2 linked regions of the Homo sapiens genome follow. The protein of the gene in region 2 purifies or fractionates together with the protein of the main gene of each other region. This does not show direct contact. Each region holds a gene or a part of one and is shown on either strand. Other genes may lie near its edges. The genes, in order: ITPR3 and TESPA1.

The links.
Region 1: the proteins of TESPA1 (region 2) and ITPR3 purify together in Homo sapiens (affinity purification with mass spectrometry; 3 studies listed by BioGRID and IntAct, with this or other methods). This does not show direct contact.

The regions. Positions count from the first base shown.
Region 1 is NC_000006.12:33,683,505-33,687,321, reverse strand, and holds part of ITPR3 (inositol 1,4,5-trisphosphate-gated calcium channel ITPR3), read right to left. Parts: intron 3,303-3,817; coding exon 3,154-3,302; intron 2,966-3,153; coding exon 2,857-2,965; intron 2,725-2,856; coding exon 2,634-2,724; intron 2,549-2,633; coding exon 2,379-2,548; intron 1,964-2,378; coding exon 1,789-1,963; intron 1,680-1,788; coding exon 1,495-1,679; intron 1,270-1,494; coding exon 1,069-1,269; intron 914-1,068; coding exon 803-913; intron 314-802; coding exon 218-313; intron 97-217; coding exon 1-96.
Region 2 is NC_000012.12:54,950,556-54,953,996, reverse strand, and holds part of TESPA1 (protein TESPA1), read left to right. Parts: intron 1-3,441. UniProt on the Homo sapiens protein: Required for the development and maturation of T-cells, its function being essential for the late stages of thymocyte development.

The sequences.
Region 1 (3,817 bases), on a different chromosome or scaffold from region 2:
CGCCAGGATATAGATGTTATGGCCCACTTCACGTGGGCTCACCTCCGAGTTCTCACGCTCTTCCTCCTGCAGGTAGGCCTTCTTGATGACGTCCACCTGGAGGGGCAGTGCCTGTTCCAATGCTCTCTTCCTAGGGCGGTAGGGCCAGCCGGGCCCTCATCCCCATCCCAACACACTCCACCTGGTTCCGCCCGCCTGCCCACCTGCCCAGCCTCACCAGCTCCTGGGGCCGCAGGCTGATGAGGATTCGCTCAGCATTTTCACTGTCATGCCGGCTCTCCATCAGAGCCAGGAGCAGCTTGGAGGCATTGTCCTGGGTGGAGGGGCAGAGGGAGGCAGGCCACAGTCTCAGGACACCATGCCCCTGACAACTTCTCCCTCATTCCTCTCCATAACAGCTCTCCCATCCAACAAAAGGTCAGGTGCCATGACCTTCCCATCCTCCCTCCCCCCGGCTTAATGAGAAGCATCCTGCACAGCCAGCCCACCCATAGGCTTGCCTTCACCCCCGCTGTGGCAAACACTCAGCTACCCAGACAGCAGACACACACATAGCAAGTCCTCAGCTAAACCAGAATATATTTGCATCCAGAGTGAGTGTATGTTCCAGCATGCTTAAACATGCGTATATTACACACACACCCTGCACACACCACACACTTGTGCATCCAGATGATGCCCCATCACACAATGCTAACACCCACATTACACACCACTATGTACACTTGACACACAAGTCACACATACATGCATGCACATCACATGCACACCCAGCACTCACACACCTGCCACTGGGCCCCACCTTGAGCTGCAGCACCAGATCCATGCGGTACTTGCACAGGGGGCTGATGTCATTGAGGATCAGTGCGGTGATGATGTCTATGCCATTGGACTCGTGAGTCACAATGCAAGTCTGGCAGGAGGCAGTGGGGGACACAGGGCCCAGGCCCTCTCAGAATAGTGGCAGCTCCAGAGACCTCAGCCTCTCTCCCTGCCCCAGCTGGCTCCATCTACCCACATGTCCACACTGCCACCCTGGCTGCCACTTATGCCACCAGGACAGCTCACCTGGTTCTCATGGCAGGGGCCCTGGCAGTACTCAGTGAGGGTCTCCAAGGTCTGGATGACGAGGCCCACGTTGTCCTCATTGATGTAGAGCCCCAGCAGCCCCAGGCCGCCCGTGGTGCTGCCGCACATGATGTCCAGGAACTGCAGCGTCTCGCATACCAAGTTGTAGTTGGTTTTGTTGTTCTGACAGCGCAGGAAGTTCTGCGGGGCACAGAAGGGTTGGGCACAGCACAGCTACAGCACGGAGAGGGAGGCTGGCCTGGGAAGCACGATCTTGTGTGCTGCAGGGGTAGGGGAACCACCAGCCACAAAGCAGCAGTGCCCAGGGCAGGGCACACCTGCCATAGAGGGACACCAGCCACACTGCCTAGTCTGCATGCCGGCTGGCCAGCGGGGGAAGGGGCAGGTGTGTGGCGAGGCACTCACCTGCAGGTCCCGGTTGTGGTTCTCACACAGCAGCTGCAGAAAGCGCAGGATGGGCTGCATGATGAGCACGGATGTGCCCATCTCACTGCTCTGCACACGTTCGCTCACCTCGTGCCCCCGGCGCAGGCTGGGGCCCAGCGAGTAGCGGGATGAGGAGCCAGGTATCGAGAAGGAGGCCACGCGGCCTGTGGGCGAGACCTGGTGAGGCTGGAGCTGCCCACCCCCTTGGCCACCCCCCTGCACATCTTATCCTGGGATCCCCGTCACGCCGTGCCTCTGCCTCAGACCCCTGACCTTTGGTGGTGGGGTCGACTGGCTCGCGGTCCTCATGTGGCTGGCTGCCCAGGTCATTCATGTTGACTGCCACCGTGGACTTGGTCTCCTGCTGGGCCCGCTTCATGCGGTCGTGCAGCACCTTGAAGAAGCGCTCTGACTTCTTGTCACTCATCATCAGGTTGTGGAAGGATTTCTGGAGGTGGACAGTGGCCAGGGAACAACCTCAGCACTGGGCCCTGCTCCTACTCAGGGCGTGGGGCAGGCACACCACACTGCTGGGGCCGCTGGGGCTGCAGGGGCCTGGCTGCAGGCCTGGGTGCTGGTGGCTAGCATCCATGGCCACCCATGGGCGGCTCCATGCCCCATATCTGCTCCTGTGTCACGTGGTCCTTTCATCACCCCCGCATACCCCTCTGCCCCAGCCAGGCCTGAGCCCGTCTCCTCACCACCCTGCCCCCATCATGCCCACTCTTCTCACCTCTCAGCCACTGCTCAGGCCTCTCCTCTTTCACACCCTCCTCGGCCTTCAGTGCCCAACTCAAGGCCCACCTCCTCCAAAAAGGGAGGGAGGCAAAGGAGGGCATGTCCAGGCCCCAGGCCCCCCACACCTGGATCTCTGTGTTGCCACCATCCAGCAGGTGGATGGCCAGGCCGATGCTCTCCTGGAAGATCTTCTCGTTCTTGGTGCTGGTGATGAGGTCGCATACCAACTTGGTGGCCCCCTCCTTGTCCAGCCGGCACTGGGTGGCTGCGATTGCCGACCAGTCTGGGTCCAGGCCTGGAGGCGGGACTCGGTTGAGGGAGAGCTGGTGTGACAGGAGAGTGGAAGGGAGGGCCCGGGGGCAGGGGAAGGTGATACTGACCAGTGCCTATGGGGTCGGGAAGGTCCCCCCGCGAGGTGGACTTCCGGTTCTGGAGGTAGTTTTGCAGCAGCATCTTGCGCAGCTGGTTGCCCTGGGGGAGGATGGGAGTGAGGCCCCATTGTGGGTACAGCCCACCACTGACCACTGGCCTGACGGGCTTGACCCTGAGCCCCTGGGTACTCCTGACTGGCCCACCCAGCACTTGCCCCACCAGGGCACTCACCCGGTCCCCGTACTTGGTCTTCTTGAGCAGCATCTGCTGCAGGGTCCGCAGCACCTTGATGCACAGCTTCTCCTCCGACTCCATGAGGTCCTTGGTGTGCTGGATCAGCCTGAGCCGGCCAAGGAGGCAGCTCAGGGCAGCCCCACACTGCCTCCCTCCAGCTACTTCCCCACCCCATCCCAGGCAGGAACACCCCCAGGCCCTCTGACCCAGTGAGCCTGTCTAGTCCCCACCGGGCCCTTCTCTGTCCCCTGCCGCTGCACCCCTGCTGCCCCCATGCCCCAGTGTCTCGCTCACTTGGACAGGAAGCCCCCACTCTCGCAGCGCTGGTAGGCCTCACTGCCCTCCAGGAAGAGCAGCTCAGGCCAGTGCAGGACATCCACCAGCACGGACAGCTCAGCCTGTACCAGGGGCTTCAGCCGCTCCTCCAGGGCTGTGATGATGTCCTGGGGTGGGCAGGGCAGAGTCATTGCCAGGCCCAAGAAATGACCCGGGTGTGACTGCCATTCCTCCGACCCAAACGCCAAACAGCCCCACAGATTGCCCTGCCTCTGTCTGAGGGGCCCACACCCACAGAGACACCCTGAACACAGCGTGATGTCTGTCTGCTCAGAGCCCTGGCTGGGAGCTGCCAAGCCTGGCTTCTCTCCCAGCTCTGTGTGACCTTGGGCAAACCCCTTAGCCTCTCTGAGCCTCAGTCTCCTGCCACGTGGGGAAAATAATCCACCACACCCCCTCTACAGGCCAACGAGACAGCGCACAGAAATGTGCTGCATAGACAGGAGGGCGCTGCAGGAGTGAGGGGTGGTCCCGACCCCCTCATGAGCTCCAACCCCACTAGCAGGCCTCTGGGTTCTCCAGGCTTCCTCTGGAAGGAGGTTCCCCAGTCCCTTGCTGCTGGGTCGGCCCTTAGCAGCCCCAGAGTGTAGAGAAGCCAACCAGCCCCTTCCTGGAAGTGTGG
Region 2 (3,441 bases):
GAATAAGCAGAAATGTTCACAGGATGCTTTGAGCTCATAGTTTAGTGAAAAACATGACAAGAGAATCAGTAATTATTAATAATTTTCATTAAATGCCATAGGGACCAGAAATTAACCTTTCAGAAGATGGCATTACTTTTTTTAACGATGTGTGTTGGCAAAGATGTAGAGAAGGTAGGCCGGGCACGGTGGCTCACGCCTGTAATCCCAGCACTTTGGGAGGCCGAGGCGGGCAGATCACGAGGTCAGGAGATTGAGAGCATCCTGGCTAACACGGTGAAACCCCGTCTCTACTAAAAATACAAAAAAAATTAGCCAGGCGTAGTGGCGGGTCCCTGTAGTCCCAGCTACTCGGGAGGCTTGAGGCAGGAGAATGGCGTGAACCCGGGAGGCGGAGCTTGCAGTGAGCTGTGATCGTGCCACTGCACTCTAGCGTGGGCGACAGAGCGAGACTCCGTCTCAAAAAAAAAAAAAGTAAATAAAAAAAGATGTAGAGAAGGTAAGTCTGGACAGATGTGTCCAACATTGAACAGGGAGAAGGTGGCTGAGGAGAGTAGAAAAAGGAAAAGCAGAATATTGATATTCTAGGCAGAGAGAAAGGTAAGTTCAAAGACAGATGAATGGAATACCACAATATCTTATGGAAACTACACCTTATGCCTAGTGGGAGAAAGGGGATGTGCTGGAGAAAGATCAAAACTGAAAATAAGAAAGATAAATAGAAAGGAAGTTATAAAACAGAGTCTCCTATGTTATTTTAAGTGTTTTGGTTTAGTCTAAGGTAGGAATCCACTGAAAAATTTACAAAGGAAGTGATGTGATTAGATTTGTCTTTTAGAAAGATTATTCTGGTAGAAGTATGGGAGATGGACTGGGTAGGAAGCCGGCAGAGTAAGGAAAATAATTTAAGAATCTACTGCAGAAACCTAGGGAGAAATGTGATGATCAGAAACAAGCTGAAGGCAGTGGGAATAGAGGGGAGGACGAGTGAGATTTTGAGATATTCAGGAGGTAAAATATCTAAGCCAGGACCGATTAGACTTGTGTTTGGGGAAGAAAAATGGAATAAGGAACAGAAAGAAAGATAGGGCATACAGGTTTCCTCTTGGGCAACTAAATGGATGTAAATATCATTTTATTAAGAATGAAGTAAAAATAGGAATAACAATTTGGAAGGCAAATATATTAAAGTATAATTTTCAAAAAGGTAAAATAATGACTCTCATGCAAATGTAGATAAACATGTTCAAAGACTTTACTCAATTCATTAATTACTGAAGGCACCAGCAATATGCTTGACCTGGTCCAAAGACTATTTGAGAAGTCAGTTTATACAGAGAGAGAATTTAACAGATTGCCATATTAGATACAAAACTGGTTAATATCCAATAACAGCATAAACTTTATCTCTGGGATTACTGGTTCCACTGGATGGAAATTATTTGCATCTCTACCCAACATAAATCACTAAGGTAATCTCTGCTCTTGCAAAACTATAAAATAGCAGTGTAAATAGAAAGTCAAGATTAACACTGTACTGAAAGAGTATCTAGTCATCTTGTTTGACTATTTAGAAAAAGCTGATGAGTTCATATCTGAACATGGTGAGTGTAAGGTACTTCTAAAATACTGTGATAAAGAGGTTCATGTCTTCATTGGTTTCTGTTGCTATAATAGAACATTACAAACTAGGTATTTTACTTTATAAAAGAAATTTATTTACTACAGTTCTGGGAGCTGGGAAGTCCAAGGTTGAGGGACCACATCCGGTGAGGGCCTCCTTTCTGCATCATAACATGGCAGAGGATATCACATGGTAAAAAAGCAAGAGCATGCCATCTCAGGTCTCCCTTCCTCTTCTTATATAGCCAAGATTCCCATCATGGGGCCTCACCCTGATGAGTTTATCTAATCCTAATTTTTTCCCTAAGACCTCACCTCTTGATACTATCACGATGGCAATTAAATTCCAACATGAATTTTGGAGGGCAAACTCAAACAACAGTCCATAAGGCAGTTTGGATAAAGGAATCTAGGAATTGAGCTTTTTGGAGTTCAAGGCTTACTTATAATAGGTGACGGCATGAGGAAAGATAGTTCACCCAAGAAAGTATGCAGAATCAGAATCTGAAGTAAAAAAAAAAAAACAACTTAGAAATATTAATATTTAAAGTTTTATCAAGGAACAACGTATATAAAGGAGCAATATTGATTAGAAAAAGGTTGCAAATAGAAACCAAGTGATGTTTCTCTCAAGAAGGAGGGTGTAGTCTTCAGTAACATTTACCATAAAATATCCAATAGGAAGGAAAATGCAAAGATACCATTGTATTTGTGACTAGATAACAATTACTAACCTTGATAAGAATATTTTTATTTGGGTGACAAGGCTTTAAAATATTAATATGAAAAGTGAATAAGAAATGTTGAAAAGAAAGTAGGTAAATAATTTTTTTCTAGGATGGTGAAAGTTTAAGCATACAGTAAATATTTCCCTGGAAGGAAAGAATCAATAGAATGGGAAAGGCTATGGTTTAGGAGGGAAGGAATTGTATGAGTCTCTTCTCACATTGCTGTAAGGACCTAGCTGAGAGTGGGTAAAGAAAAGAGGTTTAATTGGCTCATGGTTCCACAGGCTGTGCAGGAGGCATGGCTAGGGAGACCTCAGGAACTTTCATTCATGGCAGAAGGGGAAGGGGAAGCAAGCACATATTCACATGGTCAGCAGGAGAGAGAGAGAAGGGGGAAGAGCTACACACTTTTAAACAACCAGATCTCATGAGAATTCACTCGCTGTCATGAGAACAGCAAGGGGGAAATCTGCTTCTGTGATCCAATCACCTCCCATGAGGCCCCACCTCCAACATTCAGGATCACAATTCAACATGATATTTGGGTGGGGACACAGAGCCAAACTATATCAGGGATGTTAATGGTGTGAAGTCACTGAGAACTGGGATGAGATGAGATTCAAGGCACTTTTGGAGGGTGTAGCTAGCCATAAAGTAGTGTGACAGATATTTCTCTGAGATTAAAGGGAAAAAAAAATGGAAAAAAATTTTAAGTGTCAATATGGTTATATTGGTCATCTGGAGAGGAAGTCAAGAAAAATTCTGCCTATTTCTTTCTCTCTTTTTCCTGTGGGGTCATTACTAAAAAGTGTGAGTCAGGAAAGGAATGGTAAAAATTTGAGAATTCTACTATGTAGAAAAAACAAGAGAAATACTTATTAATAGAAAATGCATTGCTAGTTGAATAGGTGAATAATGTTAGGCTCATTTCAAGGTGCAGAACATGAATTGATAGTGGTTTAGTGATATTCTCCAACAGTGTTCAGCAATCCATACAAAAAAATAAAGGTATAAATGTATGCCTTTATAAGTATTAAACAGTAAGAGGTAAACTCTTGCAGGAATCTCACCTCATGATGAAAAGAGCAGA